Homo sapiens: one gene and its partners. The protein of the gene in region 1 purifies or fractionates together with the protein of each later gene. This does not show direct contact. Each region holds a gene or a part of one and is shown in the gene's direction. Other genes may lie near its edges. The genes, in order: SDCBP, ARHGEF2, IARS1, ANKRD28, RIMS1, LARS1 and TARS3.

Region 1 (4,299 bases):
AGCTCCATGTAATTAGACTCCAGAGTCTAGCTTAATTATAATGGGTCTGATAACCTTTTATTAAGGTTATTGCTATGACCATAGCACTTTGTACCACTTATTATAATTGTAGTTAAATCTGTGTCTGTCTTGTTGCCATATCCCAATGCATATACAGTACCTGGCATTTATGTATTTACCAAATATTTATTGAAAACTTGCTTGTGTTAGTGGTGATGCAGTTGGGAAAACAAATAATAGTAGGTATTTTAAGAGGTTGAAAAATTGAAAAAAACATAAATGGACATAGATGTAATTGCAGATAGCTAGCTGCTTCTCCTAGGACTGGGATAACACAGGAGAGAGATTGGAGTTAGCAGAACCTAGAAGCTTGAGGAAGAGCCCCACGGAGCTGGGACTCAGACCTTGGATGAGGGGACACTACTAGTGCCTCTGAGGGGTTGTAATGAGGCTGGTTCTGGGAGTGTCAGTAAAAGTTGCAGACTGGAACCAACTGCTGCTGCCAGTGTAAAGGGCCAGGCTTACACAGTACTGACAGGAGCAGGAGGCACACAGGAAGGAATGAGGTGCTTGTCATTCCAGTCACTGACAAACGAAATTATAATTTGCACAGTTAGGCCCAGCATCACCAAGTAGAGTCTAGAAGGGTGGATTTGGAGCTGACAAACAGTAGTTTAATATCTGTTACCACCTACTCCTTTGACTACTCAGTATATCCACACACTTGTACAAACATTTGAATTTCATGTGACAACAACAACAACTTTATAGTTTCTCCTTGAAAGATGAATTTCTTCATAAAATCAAAGTTCAAACTTTATAAAGGGCTCCATAATAAATACCTTAGGCTTTCATGGTCACTTATGATCTTTATCACATATTCTTATTGTTATTTGTTTATTTACAATCTTTAAAAATATAAAAATCATTTTTAACTCAGGGGTGTACAAAATGAAGCCATGTACCCTTCAATATAAATGAAGTTGCTCTCACCCTTTCTCTAGAAAGGGATGATACCAGTTAATGTGGCCATCTCTGGGCAGTCATCATGGTATTGATTACTATATGATACTAATTACCCTTCTAAGTATTCACATTCCCAACAGAATATTTTTAATTTAAAGGCAAAAGTGTAAAGTTAACCACTACCAACAATTCATACATAAAGGTAAAAAGAGGTATAGAGGAACAGAAAGATTAATTGCTGTATTTACAGAAAATATACAAATACAAAGAAGAACAGAGTCATAGCTGCTCTGATTCTTATTTTAGTAACTGATCATGAGGCTGTAGTTAAAATTTAGAACTTCCTTTGTTCACTACATGGATGCTTAGATCCCTTTGCCCAAATACCTAGAAGGGTGATATAACCTTCATTTTTGTGTCTGCATCTCCAGGGTTCTTCAGTGCGCCGCCTTTTATTTTTCTTCTGTTCTATTTTAAATTAATTTGTTGCTGGAGATTTCTGTTATCTCTTCATATCTAGTGAATTTTTCATTTCACATATTTTATTCTTCTTCTCTTGATGTTCCATCTGGATCTTCCTCTCCCCAGCTTTATTGAGGTATAATTAACAAATATAAATTGTATATATTCAACTGTATATATCAATACAACTTGATGTATTGATAAACACACACAAACACACATTGTGAAATGATTACCACAGTCAGGGTTATTAACGTATCTGTCATCTCACATGGTTACATTTCTTTTGGTGTGTGGTGAGAACACTTAAGATGTACTCTTAGCAACTTTCAAGTATACCGTACAGTATTATTAATTATAGTTACTATGCTGTACATTAGATCTCCAGAACGTACTCATATGATAACTGAGAAAGTTTGTACACTTTGACCAACATTTTTCTCATTCTTTGCCCTGCCCAACCCCAGCCCCTGACAACCTTCCTTCTACTCTCTATTTCTGTGAGTTTGACTCTTTTCAGATTCCACATATAAGTGGGACCCAGACAGTACTTGTCTTTCTGTGTCTGGTTTATTTCACTTGGAATAATATTCTCTACATTTATTCATGTTGTCCAAATGGCAGGATTTCCTTTTTTTAGTGGCCTAATATTATTCCATTTTCTTTTTGGTTGGGGAAAGGTTCCACTTAAAATAAACCAGTTTTGATTAGGAAAACTGGAAAGAATTAGAAACTTGAAACATGGTATATGACACAGGTCCCTAATGTAGGTATTCTGGGGCATTCTGGTTTGTGCATATGATTTGTTAATCCATAGATGGTTACTAGAGGGGAAGAGACATAATAGTTGACTGTCTTATGTGTGCCAGTGCCCATACAACATGCACTTTTCATTTAATCCTGTCAGTAACAGTGAGGTAAGAAATTTGCCCCTTTTATGGAAATTCTGAAAGGATAAGTAGATTGTCAAAGATCGTGACATCATGAACCGTCTGGAAAATGTTTCAAAAGTATATGGCCTTTAAGTTCAAAGATAATAAATTTGAGATGAAGACAAGCCAGTATACCGGTGAAACAAATGCCAGTGAATTCAAAGGGCAACAGAGAGTCATTGAATCTATTAGAGATGATATGTGTGGGAATAAGTTAGTGAAGAATTAGTAGTAGAGCCAGTGCCATTTTCATAGACATCAAACTTTATCGGAAGGAAATTATTTGTGGATTGCTTTTTGGAAAGCCAAAACTGAGTAAGTTCCAGTTAATTATCATTGTTTTTTTCAAGGAGAGTGTTTCTAGATATTGACACATTGTATATGGTTTTGTCAGCAGTTGGTAGCAAGACCTTCCAGTATAAACTATATGGTGGCTCCTGTAACTGGTAATGATGTTGGAATTCGTAGAGCAGAAATTAAGCAAGGGATTCGTGAAGTCATTTTGTGTAAGGATCAAGATGGAAAAATTGGACTCAGGCTTAAATCAATAGATAATGTAAGTATTTTAAATACCTATTTGAATTTGTCTAAATCTCTTACATAATAAGTGATTAATGTTAAAATAATTTGAAATGGAAATGCTTTAATTATAATAGTGCATCTGTAGTTGAGAATATTTTAAATCTACTAACTTAAATGTTTTCAATTGGGGATGTTCTATTTTGCAGAGGCATAGTTGGGACTTCTGACCACATTACTTTGAAAGATGTTTCTTTTCTGAATATTCTAACTGGAATACATTTCACTGGCCTACATATATTATAGTTTGTATAATAGAATTGTGGCAATTAAATAGAGCAGATGTGAAGGTTAAGAAAAAACTTTCCAATGAGAGTCAATGTCAGTGTGCCTTTTTTTTTTTTTTTTTGAGACGGAGTCTCGTTCTGTCGCCAGGCTGCAGTGCAGTGGTGTGATCTTGACTCACTGCAACCTCTGCCTCCCGGATGTGTGTGCATTTTTAAACCAAATGATCAGTATTTAACTGGTGAGATGGTTTTTGCAGATTTGTTATTAACATCCTTCACATTTGAATTTAATATGTCATTTTCTGAGTAAAAAAAGATGGAATATTCTTTCTAATTAGGGCAGCCTTTACTTTATAATTACCTCTCACCTTAACATACTGAAGATATGAAACAGGGTTACTCTCTGAGGAACCATTTATAATTGTGAAGGACATGTTGAGTCTTTACCCCAATTTATAGTTTTAGCCATTACCTTATTGGATTCGGTTTCAGTCATACATCTCTAGCTTAGTGCATCCAGCCTTTCCACATAGAAAATTATAAGTGTGGTGCACTGCTGTAAATGGAGGAGGCTGATCTTGGCAGGAGGCCCCCGCCCTGCCTGCCCACCCAGGGGGCTGAGGCCATCGATGATGGCCTTGCTCACTTGTATGTCACTCAAAATACATCTGCGTGCTTAGTTGGGATGCTCTGACTTTGCTGCCCTTTCTCCAGAATCTTCAGGGAATAGAGTATACTGCTGCTCCTTCCGCCAGGATTGCTCTTGTGTTCTTTCCTCTGTCCTAAAGAGAAAAGATACTTTTCATAGGCCCCTTGGCCCCACTGTAGGTAATAGTTGCAGTGGATTTGTTCACTTGGCCAAAGGGCATTTGTTCATTTATGGGGTGCTACCTAGTTCTTGCTTATCATTCTACAATGTAACAGATGTGTGATAGAAATATGTGACCTAGCTTAGGATTGTAGAAGTAGATGCACTTATATTTTACCAGGCTTATTCTTCTTTTATACTTACCTATTTATATTTTGTTCAACTTCTGATTGAGATTTTACATAAGTAAAAATATCCATGTGAGTGTAGTTATTGGTTAACAGTATTTGAGTTTTCTGTATTTATTTCATTGTGTGTTCTTTAT
Region 2 (4,299 bases), on another chromosome or scaffold:
GTAGGACAAAGAACCAAACAAGCCCACTCACTCCACCTCTGGAGCAGGCACCCCTGGTAAGCAGGCCCTATGTCCTTCCATCCTCAGAAGCCTGAGCCCTGGGGCGGGCACAGGCAACCTCCGGGACAATAGCACTAGGCAGTGCCAGGGTCGCTTGCTGCTGGGCAGTGCCCATGCTGGGATGTGCTGCTGCTGTGGCTGCTGCCCGCTGCTGGCCCACCTAGAGCAGGGGTCACTTCGAGAGAGGGTGAGTGTTGGGAGGTGGAGGAGGCAGGGCCCAGAGTACCAGGGCTGTCTGTGGAGCATTGATGCCAGAGAGAGGAAGGGCCACTAGAGACCCTGTTCTCTGGCTGCCCCAGTCTTCTCCCTCCCTTTGCCACTCCATCTGAGCTGGTCAGACAGATGAGTGTTTGTGGATGCCACAGGGGGAGGGTGGAGGGCAAAGGACAGAGGTCAGGTGTGGAAGAGAGTACTCGTAGCAGCACTGGGGCAGAGCTGCAGCACTGCCCATTCTGGAGTGACCCTGGTCCAGCCATGTTGTTTTTTTTAATACTATTTTCAGCTTGCTTGCTTTTACTTATGTGTGTATATATATATATGTATATATTTTTTTTTTTTATAGAGATGGGTCTCGCTGTGTTGCTCAGGTTGTTCTCAAACTCCTGGCCTCAAGCGATCCTCCCACCTCAGCCCCGCAAAGTGCTGGGATTACAGGTGTGAGCCACCTCACCGGCCTCTTGCTTTTAATTCAAATGTAATACATGCTCAAACTTTTGGTTTGAGTTATATAGAAGGCTGGGAGGGCAGGAGAGGAGGAGAAAAGGGAGAGTATATGGCAGTGGGAAGAGATTTTTGGACTTGGTGTTTGAGGTCCTGTGAGGTTATTATTCAAAGGTGAATTTGAACTTCTTTTTTTTTTTTTGAGACATAGTCTCACTCTGTGGCCCAGGCTGGAGTGCAGTGGCCCAATCTCAACCCACCACAACCTCCAACCTCCCCGGTTCAAGCAATTCTCCTGCCTCAGCCTCCCAAGTAGCTGGGATTACAGGTGCCTGCCACTACGCCCAGCTAATTTTTTGTATTTTTAGTAGAGATGGGGTTTCACCATGTTGGTCAGGCTGGTCTCGAACTCCTGACCTCAGGTAATCCACCCGCCTCGACCTCCCAAAGTGCTGGGATTGCAGGTGTGAGCCACTGCACCCAGCCTGAATTTGAACTTCTAAAGAGGTATAATTTGGTGCAAGATAGGTGGAGGTTAGACCAAAGGGAGCATTTTCTAGTGGTCCGGGTAGGTAGGTGCCAGAATAGAAAAAAGGAGGCCAGAACATTTTAGAGGTTTGAGTTAGAGGCTAGAGGCAGCTCAGCTTCCTGAATAAGCCTAGGTAGAGGAGCAGTTGGCCTGCGTGAGGAGGAGGGGAGGAGAGGCTGTGGGCGGGAGAGGAGAACAGTGGCGGAGAAGCAAGGCTGAGAAAGGGAAGGCAGAGCGGGAGGAGCCTAGGAGGGAGACCCTGAGAAGAGAAGGGAGGACATAGAGAGAGCAGGAGACAGGAGGAGGATGCGAAAAATGGATGATTGGGGATGGGGAGGATGCATGAGGGGAGAAGGGATTGACCCCAAGACCTCTGGGCTCTGGACATCATCAGGCAAACCTGGAGCTTGGGAAGAGAGGCAGGAAAGAGAAGGATCTTGGGCCCAGGCACTGCAGCCCCATGCCCTCTGTCCCTGCACTGTTGACTCAGCCCCTCCACACTTCCCCTTTCTTTCTACCATTTTCTGCCCCAAGCACCAGGCCCGTGCATCTCTTCCCCTCCTCCACCTCTCAGCTGCTGGCGTGGCCTCGTGGCCTCGGCTGAGTCAGTACTGGTCTCCTAGAGTCCGGGCTGAGTGCTTCCCGCTGAACTGTAATCCTCTGTCCCCAGTCCAGGTCCTCTGACTTGGGGCTTCTACCCTCAGCCATCTGGATCCTGATTTTTGATTTCTGAGAGCCTGGGAAACCTTGGAGGGAGTGGTCTTCTCAGCTTCTAGTCCTGCTCCAAGAGCGGAGGGAAAATCCAGAGATCAGAGTCACAACTAAGGAAGGTCCTAGAATAGTGGGAAGAGTGATATCCCCCTCTTCTCACCTTCTCAGGCTTTTTGGGAATCACAGGGGCTTGAAGAGGGACAGATTGGAGGTCAGGGAGAATGACTTGACTTGCAGAGGCAGGGGCACTGGGGGAAATGGGAGACAGCAGAGATGGAAAATGCGGCTCAGAGGCTCCGAGGAAGGTGTGCGCCATCTGCGGAGATCAACACTGAAGGATGGAGGGTAGATGTCAGAAAGGACTTCCTAGGATGGGAGAGACCAGTTGGGTAAGGAGCAATAGAGGAAACTCTCCTAGGTTTTAACTCTGGAAAGTAGTATGAGAGGGATAAAAGTTAGACTGCAGGAGAGATTTTCCGCTGGAAGCAACCAAGATGGCTGGCTGAGCTTCCTTACTTAAAGATCCCAGAGTGGAAGAGTGACCCAAAGGCAGCTAGCTGCCTTTGCCTCAAGGTTAGTAGGGGACATGCTGCCTCCCAGACAGGCCCTGTGTGCCGTGGCTGAGGGTTGGTGAAAAGAGTTAGAGGTCTGGGATCCTGACCCCTGGGTTGGGGGTGGCAGGGGAGGCATTCTGCCCCCTTCAGCCAATCTAATAAGGGGATCTCCTGCCCCCCCCACTGTGACTGCCACAGAGACAGCAGATCCAACACTGGTTGTCATGGTTATAAGAGGAGCTAACTCCCATAGATTGGAAAGCGCTGGTGAGCTGGCACCCTCCGCTTCGCCTGCTCTCCCCTCCTCTCTGCGCATCTTCCCCCTAGCACAGAGAAGAGAGTACAGCAGCTCGGGGGTGAGCAGAGCTAGGGCTGGGAAGGTGGAGTGAGGACGCAGAGACCTAGAGCCAGGGAGATGAGTGGCAACAGGAGGCAGCCCAGCCGTAGGGGCCAGGTAGGTCAGGGACCCAGAACCCATCCGGGCTGGCTGCCCCAGAGCCTGGCCTGGTCACTCCCGGACAGCTGCCTCTGACACCCAGTTGCAGGCTCTGCTTTAGGAACTGGTGTCTTTCCAGCATCCTCAGGCTGGCATTTTTTCCTTGCCTCTGCCCCCAGCCTGTCTCTCTGGACTCCAGGCACCCTGGCATTTTCCAGCCTCACTTCCTCTCCCTCTCATCCCTTCCACAGACCCGGGAAAAGGAGAAGATGAAGGAAGCCAAGGATGCCCGCTATACCAATGGGCACCTCTTCACCACCATTTCAGTTTCAGGCATGACCATGTGCTATGCCTGTAACAAGAGCATCACAGCCAAGGAAGCCCTCATCTGCCCAAGTAAGTTGTTTGGACCCTGAGAGTCACCCAGACTCGGTGCCCACTGACCCTGATCTTTTCATCTGTTTTTTCTGCCTGGATCCATGAGGGTCACTCTTCTCTCTGATCCCCAGCTGGGCCCAAATGCCAGGGCCAGTTGCTTGATCCCTTGCTCCCTGTCCTCACTCTGAGGGGTGGTGGCTGTTGGAATATGGCATAAGCCGGACTATCTGGGAATGTGGGGGAGGGGAGGCTGTGCTGGCTCCTCTTGCAGCTGTCATCCACCAGGCACCCCCCTTGCTCCCCGAACAGCTGCTAAGGGTTAGGGGAACTGATTGGAGAAGGAGCAGGAATGTTGTATGTGTGGAGGGGGTGGGGTGGGGGGTGACAGAGGAACTGGGTGGAAAGCTGCCAGCCTTGCAGCTGGCTCTGCCTGTCTTCCTGCGCAGAGCTGGGCATTCAGGACTTCACAGTCCCCTTGCCCCTTTCTTTCTATTGACTATGGGTGGAGCCTGAAATCTCTGCTGTTTCAAGCAGAAGATGTGATTAGGACCCTTCATCTCAAATTTCTAGTGAGAAAGAGGGAATGTAGCAGGGATGTGTGTGTTGAGGGGCAGGGGTTAGAATTCCTGCCCTTCATCCACATCTGAGTGTAGTCCTGTCTTTAGGGAGTATAAGCCAGGAATTCTTTCCTTCCCCAGTACACAGAGGGCTCCTGCTGCCCCCTCTCCCTCAATTCCTCCTGAAGTTATGGCAGAGATGCCTCTGATTAGAGCAGGATTGAAGGTATTGTGACCTGCTACTGAATAGCGGACAAAAGCTCTAGCCTGTAAATCCCTATGAAACTTGGGGAAGGAACCCCCAGAAAGGACCAGTGATGGGCAACCCGCTCGGGTCCCCTTCTACGCTGTGGGAGCTTTGTCATTTTGCTCTTCACAATAAAGCTTGCTACCGCTCAAAAAAAAAAAAAAAAA
Region 3 (4,299 bases), on another chromosome or scaffold:
CACAGGAGCTAATAGAGAGAGAACTAACTCACTGCAGAAGGAGAGCATTGGTCTCTTCACGAGGGATCCACCCTGTGACCCAGATGCCTCCCATCGGGCTCCATCTGTCAATACTGCCACACTGGGGATTAAATTTCAACTTGAGATTTGCTGGGGACAAACCATATGAAAACTAGAGCATTTACCATTGTGTTACAGTTGCCTGCAGAATTCAGTACAGCCACATGCTGTACAGGTTTGTAGCTTAGAAGTAATAGGCTCCACCATATAGCCTAGCTGTGTTTTAGGCCATCCCATCTAGGTCTGTGATGTTTGCCTAAGGAAATCACCCTAACAATGCATTTCTCAGAATGTATTCCCACCATTAAGCACTGTATGACTATAATTTAGCTCTAGCTTTTTCTTGGGAAGATTCTAGATTAATGAGCCAGATTCAGGTGCCAGGAGGAAACTAAAATGCCTTAGAGAAATAATCTAAGATGTTTCACTTATGCCAGTTACTTTGACAATTTGCACATAATAAACCCTTAATATCCATTGAGAGTATGGCTATGAATGTTTAAGATTCTCTCTAGGTAGGGACTCCCTCTGATACTGGGGTGGAAACAGAGGAGCAGTGGCAACCCTGGCCTCTTCAGAGACTAAGAGTAGGCTGTGTCTTTCATGAGAGAGAAGCCACATTAGCAAATACTATCCTTCGGCCCAGATTGGTGTGTTAATGTGCCTTTAAATCATCAGTCTCAGGCTGGGTGGCTCACGCCTGTAATCGCAGCACTTTGGGAGGCTGAGGGTGGCTGATAGCTCGAGTCCAAGAGTTTGAGACCAGCCTGGGCAGCATGGCGAAACCCTGTCTTTACTAAAAATACAAAAAATTAGCTGGGTGAGGTGGTGCCTGCCTGTAGCCCCAGGTACTTGGGAGGCTTAGGTGAGAGGATCACCTGAGCCCAGGAAGCTGAGGCTGCAGTGAGCTGTGATTGTGCCACTGCACTCCAGCCTGGGCAATGGTAGTGAGACCCTATCTCAAAAAAAAAGGAAAAAGAAAATCATCAGTCTCTCAAAGTAAACATGCATGCTATATAAATTAACTCAGTATGCTCTGTTTGGCTCTAAGGAGCTCCTGCTATTGAACTTTGTTTTTGACAGGTGGTATGCATTGGGTCAGTGGCGGAACTTGAAGAACTGTCAGGAGCAAAGATCTCAGATCTCCACAGAGAGAGGTCAGTTTCTAAATGTTCGATTCACTTCAGTTTTACGATTCTCCTATTAAGACCTGGTCTCTAGCAGATTACAGAGCCACACATGGAAGTGACTAGCTTGCTGAATTACTTTGCTGATGACTCATGTCATATTGCAGTATTGTGGCCTCTGTCCTTGTGAAATGTGAGGTGAATGGTGCATAACCTTTCAGATGGAGGATTCATGGTGCTCTCTGAAAGCCTTTGAGAATTGCTGATATTTCTGTTTGCAAATGTGTATAATATCTTGTCAGGGTTTTGTGTTTCCTATTAGCAATTAAACTGCAAGTTCTGTTATGCTTACAGTTAATAGAAATGACTACTTTTCTGTTTGTTAGTGTTGACCACCTGACCATTCCTTCACGCTGTGGGAAGGGATCCTTGCACCGCATCTCTGAAGTGTTTGACTGTTGGTTTGAGAGTGGCAGCATGCCCTATGCTCAGGTTCATTACCCGTTTGAAAACAAGAGGGAGTTTGAGGATGCTTTTCCTGCAGATTTCATTGCCGAGGGCATCGACCAAACCAGAGGATGGTATGCCTCCTTGTTCTTTCATCACGTGTTTTATTGATTTTATTTTATTTAGGGAGTATTTTACTAAGTCACTGCCATTTATCTACTGGGTGATGGAGAGATTGTGGCAAATAAGACAGGCTACATTCCTGCCCTCTCCCCTCCACCACCAAGCACGGACATTAAAGTGCCTTTTGAGTAGGACTCTCCCACTACAATAGGGCTGTAGTTTTACAATTTCAATGATCTCACTGGCATTTTGGAATATATGTGTTACACTGGATGTTAAAATGATAAAAAAAGTTATGTGTTCTTAGCTTACGTCAGATCATTTACTCAAATGTTTGAGTATTTGCATAAAAGACAGTAGTTTGGGTGCTAGAAATTTGAGGGATAGTTGGTAATGTGCTCAGATATTGAGGCTAGCCTTATAAATCAACATTCTAAAAAAATCCAGATTTTTAAAAAATATACATATGAGAGAGGATTTGGGCATTGATTTTTATCTGGTGCCTTATGTAAAACAGTTCCTTAATTGGAAGAAGGTGAATTACTTTCTTTCCATGGATTGGCTTTGCTGGCCCAGGCTTTATTTACTTTTTTTTTTTTTTTTGAGACAGAATCTTGCACTCTGCTGCCCAGGCTGGAGTGCAGGGGTGTGATCTCGGCTCACTGCACCCTTCGCCTCCTGGGTTCAAGCAATTCTTCTGCCTCACCCTCCTAAGTAGCTGGGTCTACAGGCATGCACCACCATGCCCAGCTAATTTTTGTAGTTTTAGTAGAGACTGGGTTTCACCATGTTGGCCAGGCTGGTCTCGAACTCCTGACCTCAAGTGACCCACCCGTCTCAGCCTCCCAAAGTGCTGGGATTACAGGCGTGAGCCATTGCGCCCAGCCCAGGTTTTAATTATACATTCACAGTAATGTTTCTGCAGGGGTGTGTTAAAGGAATTGTTGGTGTCATTTTCTCTCTTTGACAGCTTTGGGTAATCATTGAATTCAAGTCTTCATGTTCTGGAATGTGCTGTCTTCAGATTCCAGTCCTTTTTGTCTATAGGAACAGCTACCCAGCACAAATTCTGTTTTTAGAAAGGGGTAGATGCCTTACCAATGAGCTTGTTCCTTTGAGGAGTAGCAAAGTCTGTTAGCTGGTAACAGTCCTCATGTGGATCCCGTGTCCTTGGTGCCTGCCTCCTTCTCCATTCCTGAGGCCTGGGCTACCTCTCCTGGGCACCAGGGCTCCTCCCAACTCTCCTTTAGAAGTGGGAGGGATATCTGGATCAGTGTTTATGTTAACTATGGGGTCTGGTCTCCTCAGCTCATGTCCCTTGATGTTCTCAGAGTGCAGGACTAGGTAAGAGAGGCAGGAAAGCATCACCCCCAGGACAGTGGTCAGGGATATGAGTTCATTTGGGAAACAAGCTAGGTAGCACATAAATGAGGTACATAACATTTTACAGAATAAAAGCATTTTCTAGTCTGCCTTATCACTTTTGGGTGAGAGTGCATTTTGCATCTTTTGTCATCAAATTGTCTTTTCCATATGATCTTGTGCCAAATTCAAAACCCATCCTTCATCTTCAGCTAGGTGCTTCTGGGTGGTCCTGAGAGGCCACCCAGTGCTGCCATGTGGCTCTCCACACAGACTTCCTGGGAGCTCTGGTAACAGAGAAATGGTCAGTAAATCATTCCAGACGTTTATTTCAATGCTTCTTTCAAATCTTAGACAGTAATTTGATTGGTCTCCAGTAACCAGGATTAAGAATCATTGCTTTAAGTGATTCTCAAGAAGTGTGACTTATCAAAAATAGAAATTCAATGAATAAATACAGTTTCTTTCTTATGCTTGGACTTCATTTCTATTTTTATTGAACTGTTTGGGGTTTTTTTTCAGGTTTTATACCCTGCTGGTGCTGGCCACGGCCCTCTTTGGACAACCGCCTTTCAAGAACGTAATTGTGAATGGGCTTGTCCTGGCAAGGTAGGTCAACTTTGTTGTAGTGACGGGTGGAACTTTGTCTCCACTGTTTCTTAAGAAGGAGTGCGTGAGAGCGGTCAACTTTGTTGTAGTGACAGGTGGAGCTTTGTCTCCACTGTTTCTCAAGAAGGAGTGTGTGACAGCTAAGCCTGATGGAGGAGGAGGAAGGGGAGGACTTTCAGATTGTGCTACTGCTAGTAACATAATGCTACTAGTGATATTACTAGTAATAAAATAGCATTTACTAAACTTAGCACTTTATGAAATACTTTTGCTTATAGATCTTATTTAATCTGTACATCAGTCCTTTCATGTAGATTTTGTTGTCCTTTTTTTAACACACGAGGAAGCTGTGGGTTCTAGAGACCACAGGTGCCCAGGATCAAAGCTAGTGACAGCCACACTGGGCTTGACCGAGGTACTCTGCCACCAGATCCCATTCTTCCCCTCATCTGAAACTTCCTCCCAATGGGCATTATTTCCCACATTTTGCTATTATAAGGAAGTCTCATTTTTCCTTTACTTTATTACCTCTAGTCATTAAGAATAAAAATAAACATAAATGAAAATTTTA
Region 4 (4,299 bases), on another chromosome or scaffold:
TCTGGATTAAATTCTGTTATTCTCTTACATTTGCATTCATGTTGTGGGATTATTGCTGCTGCTTTTAAGGATTGCATCTAAAATCAGGAAGGAATGGGGGCTTTTCATTATTAAAGATAAAAGTATTTCCCAGCAGCCTCTAGACTTATCGGCATCTCAGTAGTCAGACCTGGTTCCTGTGCTGCTCACCTTAAAACTGATCACTGTCAGAGGAGAATGGGGTTCTTGTGATTGACTTGGTCTAATCATGGTATCATCCCTTTGCTGGAGTCAAGGCACTCTTCCTGACCACATTGCCAGAGAGCTAAATAAAATGAGCATTCTTTTAGAGGCAGATGATAGGGCATGGGTGCTGGGTAGGCGGTCTGCCTGTCATGTTTTACTGTGAGGAATTCACATTTATTCCAGCTTTAACAGTCAAAGGCCGTAGAAACCTTCTTTTTACCTATAGTTTTCATTCTTGCATATTAAATTCAGTGCAACTATCCCAAAAGTAAATTCTAGAAGATGTGCTTTTAGATGGACATTTTCTATTTTATCATTATATGTAATTACTGAAATGTTTAAATTTCACTTTACAGCAACAAATGGTCATTCAGAATGCTTACGGCTATTAATAGGAAATGCAGAACCACAGAATGCAGTGGATATTCAAGATGGAAATGGACAGTAAGTTTCGATAAATAATTGTTGCATCACAGAAGGGCGTATTTCGAAAACCAGAGTACAGTCTTAAGTGACAGCACTGAACCTATTCCTGTTGTTGCTCAGGACGCCTCTGATGCTATCTGTTCTCAACGGGCACACAGACTGTGTTTACTCATTGCTGAACAAAGGAGCAAATGTAGATGCCAAAGATAAGTGGGGAAGGACAGCGTTGCATAGAGGGGTAAGCAGAAATATGCTCTTTCCTTTCAAAAAGCTTTTATGACCTCATATTACCTAGAACTGAACTAGGTTATGTTTATTTTTTCTTCATTAAATGTTCGTCAAATAGTCTTTACCATTTCTTTCAGTATCTTAGTTTTTAAATGCTAATTTTGAACAATTACAGAGTACAACTTAATCTAGAGAACAATGTTAGAACAAAATTTTAAAACTCTAAAACTTTTAGTAGAATTAATGTCAATTTGACTTTTTCCATTATCTCACTTATTTTCTTATACACTTTAATCTTTTTTCACCTTTGAAATATCATTATTTTCATTGAATACCAAGTTTCTCTCTTCCTGTTTTCATACTATTTGCATTTTAGAAGGGTTCTTGCTTTAACTGAATTTTTAAACCACTTCCAATAAAAATACAGAATTACTCATAAAATGATAAATGGCTTTAATTGATGGAAGGATATGGAGAGTATGGTCTTTAAAGTTTTTAATTAGCTGAAATTGGCATGTAATGTTTAGCATAATATGTTTGACTACCTTTAAATTATTTTCTTTCAGGCAGTTACAGGCCATGAAGAATGTGTAGATGCATTACTTCAACATGGTGCTAAGTGCTTACTTCGGGATAGCAGGGGCCGGACGCCTATACACCTGTCTGCTGCCTGTGGACACATTGGTGTTCTTGGAGCCCTTTTGCAGTCAGCAGCATCTATGGATGCAAATCCAGCCACAGCAGACAATCATGGATATACGGCACTTCACTGGGCTTGCTACAATGGTTAAGTATACAAACACAAATGCATATCATTGTGTAGTGAACAGAGATAAAAGAATGACATATTTATAAGGCAAATTTTAAGTTTAAAATTAGCAAAAACCTTGGGAATAATCTACTGTATAGGCTCACGTACTAATAATACTTAGTACGTAGGCTCACTCCTGTCCTTTGTCATGCTAAAGCCAAGACACTAGTTGTCAAAGGTGTTCTGAGATAAGCCATGAAGTATTTTTGAGGTTTTTCTTTTCTTTTCTTTTCTTTTTTAGTTTTGGTAGGATCTTGCTATGTTGCCCAGGCTGGTCTTGAACTCCTGGCATCAAGTGATCCTCCCACCTCAGCCTCCCAAAGTGTTGGGATTACAGGCATGAGCCACCATGTAGCCTGAAGTTTTTCTTAGATCCTTATTTCCACAAATATTTTGCATTTTTAGGAGGTTTTTAGAATGTTTCCATTGCTTTTATATAGTGTGCTTGTATTTTGATTGTGTTCTTTTACTATTTTTTTTTTTTTAAGAGTCCCACTATGTTGCCCAGGCTGGTCTTGAACAACTGGGCTTAAGCAATCCTCCCACATCAGACTCCCCAAGTGCTAGGATTACAGGCATGAGCCATTGCACCCAGCCATGTTCTTTTACTTTCTAAATACAATCATATTAGGGGAAAAATAACCAAAAGTAGGAGAAACAGTGAGATGTATCACATTCTAAACTGAAATCTATGTATGTTTTCTGAGCACATTGCAAGATAACATTCTTATATTACCAGTAATATCCATGTTCAATGTTTTAAAGGAATAAATCCCTAGCAGGTCTTAGAATTAGAAACTTTGATGGGTTAACTCTGCTACATGGTTAAAAGAGATTTTCTTTGGCCTCCTACAGGCTCACAGTCACAGTCATCGCTTTTATAGGTAGACTCATAAAAGGTCACGTAGGGAAGCATAAAGCTACTTTGAAGTTATAGATGTTAAAAATGCAGTTTGGCTTATGAAATGCCACTAATTAAAATAATTTATGCAATGAAGCATGTTGAGATATTTTTAGATTTGATCATCTTAGAAAACTCAAGTACATTATATACAGTGCAAGCATCAGTGTTGTCAAAGTTCAAGCTTCAGGCTTTAGTAGAGAAATTAGAGGTTTTTAAAATTTGTTTTCAATTTCAGTGTAGCTTCAAGATTAATGTTAATTATGACAGCAGATCTACAAAGCTGTAGTTCACAATTCTAATAACCTTCCCTCAAAATGCAGAGAAAATATAAGTTGTCTCTTTATATAAATACCCATTTGCTAAAAATAAATAAGTATAATATCTGTTGTAAAATCAGACTGCCTTACCAGGAAGTTGAGATTTCCTATCTTTCTATAATATGCTGTTTCATAGTTCTTTCACTGGGAGCTGTTCTGACAAAGTTATCAAGTTAAAGCAAAAGAGGAAAAAGCTGAATCTTGTAAAATTATAACTTCATTAAATGTTTCCACAAGTATTTCTGAGATACAATATTTTGATTTTCATATTAGTCCTTATGCCAAAGTTGGGAGTTGTATTCTTTTGCCGTTAGAACATTTTGGGTTCTTGAGGTTTGTCCTGTTATACTGTTGGTTATCCTTCAGCTGAGTACTGATAGCACCATAAAAACTTGAATAGTTAAATCTGTTGCTCATTGAACAAGCTAGTTTAGTCTCTTTGTTTTTTACTACCTTAAATCCTTAACCAAAACAGTTTTGAAAACTATAAAACCTTTGGGGTTTAACTTCTCTTTTTCCCATTTCTACTCGCTAAGGCAAGTAGAAATGAGTGTAGTGAAGTGGCCAGAGACTAGTACTCATACTAGAACAAAGAAGATACTGTATTTTGCCATTGATGTTTGATTTGTTTCTGTAATGTGACTTGACATTTTACAAGTATAAGGAAAACCCAAAATATCTAATATAGTGGGAAAATATCTACAATTGTGAGTTGTGTTTCTGTAAAAAAGTCAGTGAGATAAAACTGTTCAGAAGCAAAGACTTACTGCTTGGTTTTTAAAAAAATATATCCCTGAAGATTAACCATTGGAAAAATCACACAGTGAGATATTTTTCCTCAGGAAGAGCATTTAGTTGTAAATGTACTGCTGTAACTGTCCTTTGGAGAGTTGCTTTCTATTACAGTGTTTGTTATCAGATCTATATGTAGAACATTTTCCCTAAAGTGAGTTCCTACTCTATCACTGCTAAATTTAGACTCTAAGCACGTTTTGTGCAAGAGACAGAATTTTGCAAGAACTGCATGCCTGGTTGCCATTTAAAGATCATAACAAATGTGTCTGATTTTCAGCCTGTAGCAAAATTGTGGTGATGCTGAATTTGAGCTGGAAGGAATTTAATGTGTGTTGGCTATATGCAATAAGCGACTATATAGACAGCCTAAAATTAATACCATATTTATAGCCAAAAGCCCGTTTTATAATTTGGCATTCTGAAAGTAGAATATGTAAAATGGTTTTTACTTTAACTAGTAATTATTGTACAGCTGGAAAGAAAAGTGGAAGCATGCCAACAGAACAGAAAACAACCTCTTAAAATTAAAATGAAATGATGGCCAAGTTTTAGAAAAACACTGGCTGTAGATACTAAAAGTTCACAATTTCAGT
Region 5 (4,299 bases), on another chromosome or scaffold:
TAGTTACATTAACATTTATTGTGATACTGGATTATTCAGTTTGATTGCTAAGCAGCTCAGTCTCAAGAGCAGCCTAGTGAAGAAACTAGGTAGACACTTTAACAAATAATTGTATTACTGAATAACAAAGTGTGTGGATTGATTTTGGAAGTGAATGGGTGGAGTAAACTTCATTAAACATAATAGGTCAAGAGATTGTGAAACCAGAGGGTTGAAAGAATTATCTATATGGGAATTTAAGTCGTTTCTGTATGACAGAAGATGATATTGTGTGCAATAAAATATAGACAATTAAGTTTTCAATGATAATGCAGAAGTGACCCAAATATTTACTTTGCAATGGATGGGAATTAAGTTAATACTTGGGCTTGATTCCCCAGGTGTTCTTACAGAACCCAAGTTAAAGAAATAGAAAATAAAAGGTGATTTAGGGGAAAACCAGTGATAGTGATTAGAAGGGAGAAGAAAATATGAAAGTAGGATAAACAAGGAAACAGACACTAGGTTATCATATAAAATGCATACCATCATGTTCTGCTAGAGGTGGACCCAGTTTTGGCTTTGAGCTTTCTGGTGACCAATACAAAGAGGGAAGTGGGACTAATTGCATAATTTATATTATTGATATGATTAAAAAATACACTGATTGCCATAATATTACAAACAAGCATTATTAGAAATAACAGTGTTCCTGTTCTGAGACTTAAGGAAAATGTATTTTAAATATACCTGGGAAAAGACACATAGTAACAATTTTATATAGCTGTTTTTTATCACTAAATGTTTTCGGAGGGCACAAAAGGATGACATGAGAATTAATTTGTACTTATAGAAAAAAATGTGCGGATTGCACATACTCAGGCAATGCTTCATAAACAGTATTTCTCAATGAAGCATTGGCTAAGTTTGAATGGTGGTGAGTTCAAGGTTGTACTTGCTGGATCAATAGCCTTCTATAAACACTCTGTATTGCTCTCTGTGTCAGGGTATACTTGGAACAGTGAAGAACTCCACCAAGTGGCTGAGAGGAGACCCAGCCTCCTCCATGTGAAGTTGAAACAAATCACTAGTGGTGAATTACTTGAAGCAGCATTTTCAGAGGTTCAGGATACTCATTTATAAGATCAAAACTAAGATAGATGGGGAGGCCGAGGTGGGCGGATCACCTGAGGTCAGGAGTTCGAGACCAGCCTCAACATGGAGAAACCCCGTCTCTACTAAAAATACAAAATTAGCCGGACGTGTTGGTGCATGCCTGTAATCCCAGCTACTCAGGAGGCTGAGGCAGAAGAATTGCTTGAACCTGCGAGGTGGAGGTTGCGGTGAGCCAAGATCATGCCATTGCACTCCAGCCTGGGCAACAAGAGCGAAACTCTGTCTCAAAAAAAAAAAAAAAAAAAACCTAAGATAGATGGTATATCTGATTTTAAAACAGTGGCAAAGTCTTGGCTTAGATGTGGCTTATAAATTATATTATGTATGCATTCATTTTAATTTCTCAGTAAGGACAGTTTATAATAGATGATCCATTAGCCAAGATAATTAGTGTTAACAGGCACTATCTTCCTTATCTCTGAAGCAGACCTTTACCCATATGTGAAGTCATGCAAGAGCCTGTGCAATACCATGCACTCCAGAAATGTAGATCAATTCTTTCCAGTTGAAATAAGCATAATACTTCGTTATATCATTCTTAATATTTTTTAAATAGACAACTAAAGACAATCTATCCCATTAAAAGTAGGTTCTGTTATCAGTGATAGTAATTATGGTTTTATACAAATAAAGGATGCATTTAACATTTTATTAAAAATATTTCCTACACTTACAAATATTACTTACTTTTTTTTCTCATTTTAGGTTCAAGTTCCTTTGAATCTCAGAAGATGGAAAGGCCTTCCATTTCTGTTATTTCTCCAACAAGTCCTGGAGCTCTAAAAGATGCCCCACAAGTCTTACCAGGGCAACTTTCTGTATGTATTTTTTGTACATGTTGGAGGCTGTTAGTATTTGCATACACTGTCTGAGTCTGTCTTTAAATATGTTCGCCTTTCCTTGAAGCCTGCAATAAATACATAGTCATTTAACACCATAATCTACTTCATTAGTTTTTCATGCATTTTTTATTATTCCTTTATTCACATATTTATTCAGAAATACTTACTGAGTGCTTGCAGTGTGCCAGATACTCTGAACATTAATTGATGAATGGTAACATAAGTAAATAAAGAGTTCATATTTTTTGTGTGCTATGTAAAAGTTTCTAAGGTAAATAATTGTTTACACATAATATTAGGAGTTCATACCCCATTTATGTAATAACCTTATGAGCCTAGAGCCTGAAGAGCCTAAATTTGGAATATTCTTTTTAACTTCCTAAGGCATTTGGCAAAACTCTTCGTTGCCACTGAAAGCTCTCTGAAAAAGCTACCATTTTCTCACTATTGCCTTATTATGTGATCTGGGGAAACCTGGAGTGAAGAAACTAGGGTTAAGGATAATGAAGAACCATATATTTGTAGATTATGATGGAAAATGTGATGTTGATATTATAATTTAAGGACTTCAAACTATTTGTTTCAAATTGTTACACAAATAATGACCTTTTGCTCCTCTGATAATGTGTGGATTTCTGTGGTTTGCCTTTGTGGTTTTCTCTTGATTTTAATGAGACAGAGAAGATATATGTAAGCTTATTGCTCAAGGGCTTTTATGGTTTTAACTTTTATTTTTAGTATATTGAATATCTTTGTAATACCCTTTGGGTTTATCTGCCGGCCATCTTTTTCTTCAGTGTATGTGTAAATCTCTCATATTCTCCACATATTTTGAAAGAGGATGGAAACCCATTCTGGTTCTGTGAAACCCCATCTTAGGTATCAATTGGGAATCAGAGAAATGGATTTACACAGATCCAGGTTTGAATTCTTAATCTGTTCCTTACCATGAAAAGCTAATCCTATGTTAAATTAGTTTATTTTGTTTTAATGACTCTCAAATATGTTCTAACATATACCTATTAACAGCATATGCTTACTTAAACATAAAATGAAAAGTAACTTCTAAATTAAAGGAAAAAAATTAAAGTTAACATTGTTAAAGTGTCATCACCACTGCCAGGGCAGATACTGTAATAATGACTGATAAAATTCCAATTCTTGTGAGTTTGACAATAGGATTTTAGTACGTTACTTCCCCATTATTCTTTGGTCTACTGTCATGAAATCTTGGTTAATAGAAATATCATTTGGCCTTCTTGTAGTTTGAAGATGTCATTTGTGTATTGTATCCTTAGTTTTTTCCTCCTTCTCTCATGAAAAATAACCTGTAATAGTTTAATTCTAAAAATTAAATGACGGCTTGGTGCAGTGGCTCACACCTTTAATCCCAGCACTTTGAGAGACTGAAGAGTTCAAGACTAGCCTGGCAACATAGCAAGACCCCCGATTCCACAAAAAATTTAAAAAACTGGCCAGACATGATGATGTACACCTGTGGTTCCATCTACCTGGGAGGCTGAACTGGGAGAATTGTTGGTTCCAGCAGTTTGAGGCTGCAGTGAGCTATGATCATGCCACTGCATTCCAGCCTGTGACAGAGTGAGACCATGTCTCTAAAAAATAAAAAAATAAGTGAGAAAAAATACCAGGAAATACTAAACGGTGCCTGTATAAAATAGGCCCACAGTAAATATGTTTTATGATCTCTTCTAATTCTTTGTATTTCTTATTCCTAATATCCAAACTCTTGTTTTTTTTAATTTTAACTACCTGTGACACCAGAGAAAGCATTTAGTCACGCTATAATAATTTAGACACATATAATCTTCAAACTCTTATTTTTAACATTTAAGAACAATAATAATGATTTTATGTCTCCCTCTTCCCTTAGTTTTTTGGAAAAATTATTATTAGTTTTATTTTATAAAATGATATGTGAGAATATACAGTAACACTGAAGGCCTGCCAGTTGTAGGTTATGTTTAAAGTACTCAAAGAGAAAAGTAAAGTTCTGTGTGTTTATGCTTTCAAATTGGTGTGTTTTTAGAAATATCTGTAATTGCATTATATTGTAATTCAAAATTTCCTCATTTAAATATAACTTGAATTTTGTTTTATGTAAAATTGTAATGCCTCATGATTTTTACAAATAATTCCTTTCCTCATTGCTCCTAGGTGAAGTTGTGGTATGATAAAGTGGGACACCAGCTGATTGTAAATGTTCTGCAAGCAACAGATCTACCTGCTAGAGTAGATGGACGTCCTCGAAATCCCTATGTAAAAATGTATTTTCTTCCAG
Region 6 (4,299 bases), on another chromosome or scaffold:
GATTTTTGTATGTTTTCATCCACAGGAATGAAAAGAATGTTCATTTATAATCACGAAGAGTGTTCTTATGTTGAATGTGGCACCATTTTGGTGACATAAGGCAAAGGAGTGTTTCCCACCCTTTTTCTTTTTCGTGTGTTTCAGAGGAATATATTAACAAGTAGAATATTTTTTTCCCATGTACTTTAGTAAAAGTTAGAATTGAAAATAGATTATTTGAAATTGTATTATATGTTCCTTTTCATTTAGATTCATTCCCAACCCTTCTTTTACAATAAAGAGAAAACAAGTTGCCCAAAACTTTGAAAAGACCAGTTGCTTTATTTCTCACTCTATTGAGGGGACCGTTAATATTTGTAGAAAGAAATGAATTTAGATTCATTTAAAGCACACTTGGATTGTACTCATCAGTGATATATGATATGGACATTTATTTTTGAGTAGATAGAAATGATTCTGTTTTTAACAGGTCAGTAGCTAGGGATTCTTTTCACAATTGTGGTAACAGTTTCTTCCAAGTGTCCAAAAGCAGACATTATATAAACTTGTATGATAGTTGTGTAATTTTTTATTTTAATATGACTAATAAAATGCTTTTAGAAATTTGAAAACAAGTTTTTATGAGACCATTTAGTTTCTGAACAGGAGAAATATTCAACACAAATCACTTCTTTTTCTCTTCTAAACTAAAAAGTATGTGTTGTTAATTTATAGAGAATAGGAGAGTTCCTTCTGCATTGTTCATTGAGCTTTCACTTCCCCGTGATGCTAGGGCTGGACACTTTTCTGCTGTTCTCTAAGGATTGATAGAGGCCACCATTCTATGCCTGGTCACATCTACTGTTCTGCCTTATTCTTGAGACTTTTTTTTCTACATTACTCTCCCTCCTTCCTTTTCTTAGGCCAATAACGGAAAACTGCCTGACAACAAAGTCATTGCTAGTGAACTAGGCAGTATGCCAGAACTGAAGAAATACATGAAGAAAGTCATGCCATTTGTTGCCATGATTAAGGTAAGCTGTGGACCTTATGCAGCTGTGACCACATGAGCAATGGTTAGATGGGACAATAGAAGGATGGGGAAAAGCCTTGGACATAGTCTCCTGCCAGAAATCTGCTAAAATAGCACTTTTCAATCAATGACTGAGAGAAATGATCTATCAGATTTTGGGTTTACTTGTGGAATTGCTGAGTATGTGAAAAATATTATTGTGGGAGAAAAATTGGTTTAGAATGGCTGCACTGAACTATTCCCTTCATATTCTACCTTCCCTTCTTTCAAACTCTTTTGGCTTACATTAGGCTTATAGAGGCTTGCATTTCCTAGACCCTATTCCTGGAACCAGGATTCAACATTTGTATAGGTATAGCTTAACAGGGTAAACATTGGTTATAGTGGTTAGACCAGGGTGTCTCAGCATAGCTCTGTTGGTATTTTGGGCTAGATAGTTCTTGTGGGGCACTTTCTTGTGCACTGTAGGATATGTAATGGCATCCCTGGCTTCTACTCATTAGAAGCCAGTAGAACTACCTTTCCTGCTAGTTATGACAATGAAAAATATCTCCAGACATTGCCAAATGTCCGCTGGGGGCAGAATCACCTTCCACTTCTTACCATTGAGAATTATTGGGTTAGACCCTTAGTTTTCTTCATATACGTCGCTGATGTATTACTGGATTTCTTGACAAAAAGAAACCGAAAGAAGGCTTATATTGCTTAAGATCGCAGGCTATGGGGCCAGAAAAATCTTGGTTGAAATTCTGTGTATCAGTCACTCCTTAGTTTTGAGACCTTGGACAAATCACTTAAATTTTCTGGGCTACAGGATTTTTCATCCATAAAATGAGGATACTATAGAACCAAACTTTTTAGGAGTGCTGTGAGGAGTAAATAAAATAGTGTACCTAACACACTTAAGTAGCACTAGTCAAGAAGTAGGCTCAGTAAATGTTGTTTAAAAATACAAATTAGTATCTTCCAGCCTACTAAGCATATTGTAGTTATTCTTGTACTGTCCTTTAATTCTTGTGTCTTCTTGGCTGCAGATGCCTGATGGAGACCAGACCTCTTAACTTCTTCAATATTATAATAGATTAGTATTCTTGGAAAAGGTTTTTAATTCTCTTAGACCAAAGTCACTATTTGATCCTCAGGGTATTTTAAGTTTCAGAAGTAATTTAGAATCCTGTGTTGACCTACACTAATCAAGTTGTAATGTAAGTGCTGGTATGTTCATAGTTCGTTGGTTCCCCAGTGGCTAGTGTCATTGGTCATAATGCCAAATCTCTGTCAACATGTGGATCCAACAAAATATTCCATTGATGGTTGCAAAGGCAATTAATTTTGATGACATGTTTTAAAAGAATCCAGGGAAACCTATTTGAAAAGTAGTTATGTGTATATGTATATATATATAGAGTGTGTGTGTGCGTGTGTGTGTGTGTATAAAATGATATTAGATTCAAGAGTTGGCTTCTTTAGGATCTCATTTAAATTTGAAGAACCAGCATCAGACCGTTTGAGTGGTAATATATTTTTAAAATTATGTTGGTGATTTGCCAGGCAAATTAGTGGTTTTGCAAATTTTGGAAGGGATTAATACATCTGGGAATAAGAAAATGACTTTCTAGCACTTCCATGAGAAAAAGAAATAGAACTTGCATAGTAAGCGAAAACAGTGAGTAGCAGGAATAATATCAGGTCACTTTCATTAAGTATAACATGTTCTAGGTAGTTATATCTGCATATGTACTTGGATCTCTAGGATTCTATTTTGCACAGCAAATATTGACTACCCAAGAAAATTAAGAATAAGAAATTATTTTTTACATGCCATGTTTGAGTACTCATGTAGTATGAGTTTTTTTTCTTTAAACTTTGCAGAAATATCTTTGGGGATTTTTTGTTTGGATATTATTAATTCACTATTCTCTGAAACAGCTTTAAGAAGGTGGTATCTCAGAAAATTAAAATTTTGTTTTTTTTGGGTAACTTAAAGGGATATTTTCACACATTTGGCTGATTCCCTGTAAAGTGAATTCTTTGGGCTTGCATGTTAAGTCAGTCTAAATAAACAATCATAAAACCGTATTTATTTTATAAATCTGAAAACCTTGTGCCTTCCCATCTTTTCAGTGCTGCCATAATCTTATAATACTTTAAAAGATAATTATTTGGAGCTAGTAAATTTCATTAACAAGCAAATGTAGGTAAAGGAAATCATGAGTCCAAGGCCTTTCCTTTAACTCCTGAAATCTGAAGATTTTATCAGTTGAGAGAAGAATGATTACTTTGGAGGAAGTATGTTTTCCAACATATTCTTACTGTGATTTTGTTTTTCCATACCATTTTGGCTATTAGGAAAATCTGGAGAAGATGGGGCCTCGTATTCTGGATTTGCAATTAGAATTTGATGAAAAGGCTGTGCTTATGGAGAATATAGTCTATCTGACTAATTCGCTTGAGGTAAGAGGGCCAGGGATTGTAATAACCAGTTAACTGTAGTTAAACCATAATCCAGCTCTTTTATTTTATAATAAACCTTTTTATAAATTTCATCTTCTGTGTTTAGTATCTTTGTTAAATATATTAGTCGAAAATATTTTTGGAGAGAAGAAAAATGGGTGAGTATAAAAGTTGCAGGAAAAAAAGTGATATGTCATCTTATTTCATCAATTCTTAATTTACATATAATCAATTATACATTAAAAAACTGTATATCTGGCTATTCTACTGCAAATTATTTTTAAGAGACCTTATATTCAAATGCTTTCCAAGCCTCTCATGTTATGGAGTACTCTGAATTGTTGCCTTTTTTCCCCCCTCCCTTTTGATTTGCAGAATTGGATTAATTATAATCTTTGGTTTAGAATTGCTGCACTGATATATTGGTTCATGATATATTATGGTTCATGATATATTATGATTTGGTTCATGATATATTATGATTGTTCCATGTCTTGCCGTGTTTTTTTCCTCCCAATTTATAATAAAATGAACATCCCTGAATTTTCTACCCAATCCAGGAACTAGAACAGTACCAATAGCTTTTATATATCTGTGACGTTCTCCCCATCCAATCTTTGTGCCCCACTCACAACTTTATATATAGATCGTAAATAAGCTGGTCTCAGACAACTTAGGCAAAAGGAAAAGTCATGTGCTCTAGAAAACTGTTAGAGCACTCAAAAAGTGGTCCTAGTAATAATGAAGACACTCAAGTAAAAAAAATATAGGTTTGGAATTTAAGTAAAATTGTTTTGTGAAATACGGAGATGGAAGAAAGTTGTTTCTAATTA
Region 7 (4,299 bases), on another chromosome or scaffold:
TTGCCAGTCAGAAACTCTATACCCATTAAACATTAGCTCCCCATTCCCGCCCTGCCCCCAGCCCCTGGCCACCACCATTCTACTCTCCGTCTCTGAATTTGGTTCCTCCAGGCACTTCATATCAGTGGAATCATGACAATATTTATCCTTTTGTGACTGGCTTGTTTCACTCAGCAAAAAGTCCTCAAGATTCATCCATATTTTAATATTTTAATGTGTGTCAGAATGTCCTTCCTTTATAAGGTTGGATAATATTCCATTGTACGGATAGACCACATTTTGTTGATCCATTCATCCACCTGTAAACACTTGGGTTGCTTCTGCCTTTTGGCTACTATTGTGAACAGCGCTGCTGTGAACATGGGTGTGTAAAGTTCTGTTTGAGTCTCTGCTTTACTTCTTTTGGGAATATACTTAGAAGGGGAATTTCTGGATCCTATGGCAATTCTGTTTTTAAGTTTTCGAGAACTCGCCATACCGTTTGGTGCAGTGGCTACACCATTTTACAGTCCCACCAGTGATGCACAGGGGGTTCAGTTTTTCCACATCCTTGCCAACACTTGTTTTGTTTTTTTTTTAATCATGGACATCCTAATGGTTGTGAAGTGGTATCTCATTGGGGTTTTGTTTTGACTTGCATTTCTCTGATGACGTACTAATGGTGAGCATCTTAATGTGCTTATTGGCCATTTGTGTATTTTCTTGAAGAAATGTCTTTGGAGAAATGTCTGTTGAGCTCTTTTGCCCATTTTTTAATTAGGTTTTTTTGTATTTGAGTTATAAGAGTTCTTGATATATTCTGGATATCCATTTCTTAACAGATATGTGATTTGCAAATATTTAATTCTGTGGGTTGCCTTTTTTGCAGCTACTTTTAAGAACTAAACACAATTAATCTTTGTTAAGGAAAATGATTTGTTGTGAATATATAGATACGAAACAGTTAAATCATGCAGATACGGGTTTTTCTCCCAACAACTAGCTTCTTTAAGTAGTTATTTAATATAAAGTGCCTTGTATACCCCGATAGTAGTGATGGAAGCAGAAAAGAAAGGAAAAGGAAAAAAACCCTTAGTTTTATAAATATATCATCATTACGATAAACTTTGCTTTTGTTTTTATACAAATTAATAATATAGCTGTGTCCTTGTCAGAATTTTATTGATTAATGTTAAAATTAGATCTTCTAGAACAGTACTGTCCAATAGAAACATAATGGAATCCACTAGTCTGAGCTACATGTGTAACCTATAATTTTATGGCAGCTACATTTTAAAAGTAAAAGTTGCAATTAATTTTAACAAATTTTTAACCCAATATATAAAAAGTATAATTTCAATGGTAGCCAGTATAAAGAATGATTAACGAATGATTTTCTTCTTCTTTTTGCAACATTATACTTCCAAAGTCCAGTGTGTTTTATACTCACTGCACATCTTCTTTCAAATTAGTGGCATTTGAGGCCAGGTGTGGTGGCTCACACCTGTAATCCCAGTACTTTGGGAGGCCAAGGCAGGCGGATCACTAGAGGTCAGGAGTTTGAGACCAGCCTGGCCAACATAGTGAAACCCTGTCTCTACTAAAAATACAAAAATTAGCACATAGTAAAAATACAAAAATACAATACAGGCATGGTGGTACATGCCTGTAATTCCAGCTACACGGGAGGCTGAGGCAGAATCGCTTGAACCAGGGAGACGGACGTTGCAGTGAGCCAAGATGGTGGCACTGCACCCTAGCCTGGGTGAGGGAGTGAGACTCTGTCTCAAAAACAACAACAACAACCACAAATTAATGGCATTTGAAATGCCCAGTAGCCACGTGGCTTGTGGCCTCCATGCTGCACGGTGTCGCTCAAGGCTGTGAGCTCTTTGTATCCCTCGTGTCTCAGCACCTAGAACATCAGTAGATGACCTTTCAATGTTTCTTGAAGAAAAGTAGAGTTGTTTTCTTCATTTCAACATTGTGTGTAATAATGTGTAAATATGTTTTTCTTCGTAGTACAATAAATTTAAATGCCGCATTCTGAATGAGAAAGTTAACACTGCAACTACCACCGTGTACAGGTTTGTGTCCACACATGGTAAACGCTGCTCAGTGGTAAACTTGAAGGTGTTAGCAGTAGAGGCCGAGTTTGTTTTCTGGTTGGAGATCGATTTTTCAAGTTGTGTAGTTGATAATCTACCGTAGTTACAATCTTCAAAATGTTTTCACTAAAGAGAAATGATTATTTTCCCCTTTTTAGTAATCAGGACAGTACTGAGACCCATATTTTGTTTCCTGGGTGTTAGCTATAACAGGATTTTTCTCCATGTGAGTGATACTGTTGGGAAAGGAGTTTCTATTCTGTCCTTCCACGTTCTTATTAATGTGGCAGTGGGGGCCATTACAAGCCATCTCCTCGGCAGTGATTCTCTGCCTCATACTTACTGTCCAGAGTGCAAGTGTAGAAGAGTCTGCCCCATTGTCCAGAGTCCAAGTGTACAGTCTTCATGCATTAGCAGGATACTCATGATGAGACCAAAAGAAAATACTGGGAAACAAAGGCAGGATCAAATGTAAGAGGAGACAAGTGAAGTTAATACCAGAATCACTTAGCTCTGTTCATTTAACCTCAGGTTCCTGAGCACCTTTTTCTTTATTCGTGTGTATACGCCTTATATGTCATTGCTGTTCCCCTTTCCGTGTGTTCCGGCCATCTGGGTGCTGCTAGGACTATCACAGTACCGCCTTAGAAGACCTGGTATTTATTTAATTATAACCACAGATATTCTCCCTCATGGTACTTACTTTCGACAGTCAAGGACTTATGGTTCTCTGGTTTAATTGTACTGTAAGTAAAATCATATCCCCTTTGTGCAAAGCTATGCACGGTGCATTTCTTAAAGCTTAAAAATAAATGAAAATGTAGAAAACAGGCCAAGTTTTAAATTTCTGGCTTCTAATGCTTGAGCTCTTGGGTTTGAGAACCTTACTTACGTCAACATTGACACTTTTTGTAGTTTTTCAATTTGAATGGCTTGTATTTAATTTTTGAAAAAAAAATAAAGCTTTTCTTTTATGGCTTTCTTTTTTTTTTTTTTTTTAATTTTTTGAGATGGAGTCTTGCACTGTTGCCCGGGCTGGAGTGCGATGGCGCGACCTCGGTTCACCGCAACCTCTGCCTCCCAGGTTCAAGTGATTCTCCTGCCTCAGCCTCCCAAGTAGCTGGGATTACAGGCGCCCACCACCACGCCCAGCTAATTTTTTATATTTTTTATTAGAGACAGGGTTTCACTATGTTGGCGAGGCTGGTCTCGAATGCCTGACCTCGTGATCCACCCGCCTCGGCCTCCCAAAGTGCTGGGATTACAGGTGTGAGCCACCACACCCGGCCCTGTGACTTTCTATGTAAAGATTAGAGTATTGAAGCCTTTCATGCTAATTTGGCATTCCTTCCCTTCATCTGAGTGTTGTTTACAAGCTCTCTCCCTAGAGAACAATACACAAAGACTGACCATTGAGAGAGATGACATTTTCGTGTTTGCCACTCTGTAAGCCAGTCCCTTTTTGTATTCATTGTAATTTTTAAGTTTTTAATCAGAGAATTGCCTAGTTTCTTTCAGAAGATGTTCTGTGGTTTTTGAATCTAGAGGGCAGAGTGGACTCTGAGGCTAGATGAATCACCTCTCTCCTTCACCCTAAATTAAAAATGGCATTGCTACATATAAATAAGTGAAGCTCTACCTAAAACATAGGATATTATGGCTTATAATGAATAGTCCAGAACACTGTAACTGTGCCTGAGCATGTCCTAAATATTTCATTATAGGTGCGGTCCATTAATTGACCTTTGCAAAGGTCCACATGTAAGACACACTGGAAAAATTAAAACCATCAAAATTTTTAAGGTAAGGATTGATTTTTTTTTAATACAGTAAACTTAAGGTGCACTAGCTATTAAAGGATTTTAATCATATCTTATTCAATCATATCTTTTGTAGTCTGAACATCATGATATTTTAAAATATTTCATTCTTATTTGATGAAAACTAATAAAATCATTTAGAATTTTGATAATTAGAACACTATAGGTGGCTTTTGTTTATCATTTTACCTTATTGTAAGTGTTATAACATTTCTTTTTCATACGATATTTTATTTTATTTTTTATTTTTCTGAGACAGAGTCTTGCTCTGTTGTCCAGGCTGGAGTGCAGTGGTGTGATCTTGGCTCACTGCAATCTCCGCCTCCTGGGTTCAAGCGATTCTCCTGCCCCAGCCTCCTGAGGAGCTGTGATTACAGGCCTGCACCACCCCA

What was found.
Region 2: the proteins of SDCBP (region 1) and ARHGEF2 purify together in Homo sapiens (co-immunoprecipitation; one large-scale study listed by IntAct). This does not show direct contact.
Region 3: the proteins of SDCBP (region 1) and IARS1 purify together in Homo sapiens (affinity purification with mass spectrometry; 3 studies listed by BioGRID and IntAct, with this or other methods). This does not show direct contact.
Region 4: the proteins of SDCBP (region 1) and ANKRD28 purify together in Homo sapiens (affinity purification with mass spectrometry; 4 studies listed by BioGRID and IntAct, with this or other methods). This does not show direct contact.
Region 5: the proteins of SDCBP (region 1) and RIMS1 purify together in Homo sapiens (co-immunoprecipitation; one large-scale study listed by IntAct). This does not show direct contact.
Region 6: the proteins of SDCBP (region 1) and LARS1 purify together in Homo sapiens (affinity purification with mass spectrometry; 4 studies listed by BioGRID and IntAct, with this or other methods). This does not show direct contact.
Region 7: the proteins of SDCBP (region 1) and TARS3 purify together in Homo sapiens (affinity purification with mass spectrometry; 4 studies listed by BioGRID and IntAct, with this or other methods). This does not show direct contact.

The regions. Positions count from the first base shown.
Region 1 is NC_000008.11:58,573,146-58,577,444, forward strand, and holds part of SDCBP (syntenin-1), read left to right. Parts: intron 1-2,754; coding exon 2,755-2,916; intron 2,917-4,299. UniProt on the Homo sapiens protein: Multifunctional adapter protein involved in diverse array of functions including trafficking of transmembrane proteins, neuro and immunomodulation, exosome biogenesis, and tumorigenesis.
Region 2 is NC_000001.11:155,968,203-155,972,501, reverse strand, and holds part of ARHGEF2 (rho guanine nucleotide exchange factor 2), read left to right. Parts: intron 1-3,201; coding exon 3,202-3,346; intron 3,347-4,299. UniProt on the Homo sapiens protein: Activates Rho-GTPases by promoting the exchange of GDP for GTP.
Region 3 is NC_000009.12:92,262,398-92,266,696, reverse strand, and holds part of IARS1 (isoleucine--tRNA ligase, cytoplasmic), read left to right. Parts: intron 1-1,143; coding exon 1,144-1,217; intron 1,218-1,573; coding exon 1,574-1,768; intron 1,769-3,641; coding exon 3,642-3,728; intron 3,729-4,299. UniProt on the Homo sapiens protein: Catalyzes the specific attachment of an amino acid to its cognate tRNA in a 2 step reaction: the amino acid (AA) is first activated by ATP to form AA-AMP and then transferred to the acceptor end of the tRNA.
Region 4 is NC_000003.12:15,682,592-15,686,890, reverse strand, and holds part of ANKRD28 (serine/threonine-protein phosphatase 6 regulatory ankyrin repeat subunit A), read left to right. Parts: intron 1-581; coding exon 582-669; intron 670-771; coding exon 772-889; intron 890-1,445; coding exon 1,446-1,665; intron 1,666-4,299. UniProt on the Homo sapiens protein: Regulatory subunit of protein phosphatase 6 (PP6) that may be involved in the recognition of phosphoprotein substrates. Involved in the PP6-mediated dephosphorylation of NFKBIE opposing its degradation in response to TNF-alpha.
Region 5 is NC_000006.12:72,246,155-72,250,453, forward strand, and holds part of RIMS1 (regulating synaptic membrane exocytosis protein 1), read left to right. Parts: intron 1-1,860; coding exon 1,861-1,973; intron 1,974-4,175; coding exon 4,176-4,299. UniProt on the Homo sapiens protein: Rab effector involved in exocytosis. May act as scaffold protein that regulates neurotransmitter release at the active zone.
Region 6 is NC_000005.10:146,123,149-146,127,447, reverse strand, and holds part of LARS1 (leucine--tRNA ligase, cytoplasmic), read left to right. Parts: intron 1-902; coding exon 903-1,013; intron 1,014-3,361; coding exon 3,362-3,466; intron 3,467-4,299. UniProt on the Homo sapiens protein: Aminoacyl-tRNA synthetase that catalyzes the specific attachment of leucine to its cognate tRNA (tRNA(Leu)).
Region 7 is NC_000015.10:101,703,450-101,707,748, reverse strand, and holds part of TARS3 (threonine--tRNA ligase 2, cytoplasmic), read left to right. Parts: intron 1-2,001; coding exon 2,002-2,066; intron 2,067-3,811; coding exon 3,812-3,890; intron 3,891-4,299. UniProt on the Homo sapiens protein: Catalyzes the attachment of threonine to tRNA(Thr) in a two-step reaction: threonine is first activated by ATP to form Thr-AMP and then transferred to the acceptor end of tRNA(Thr).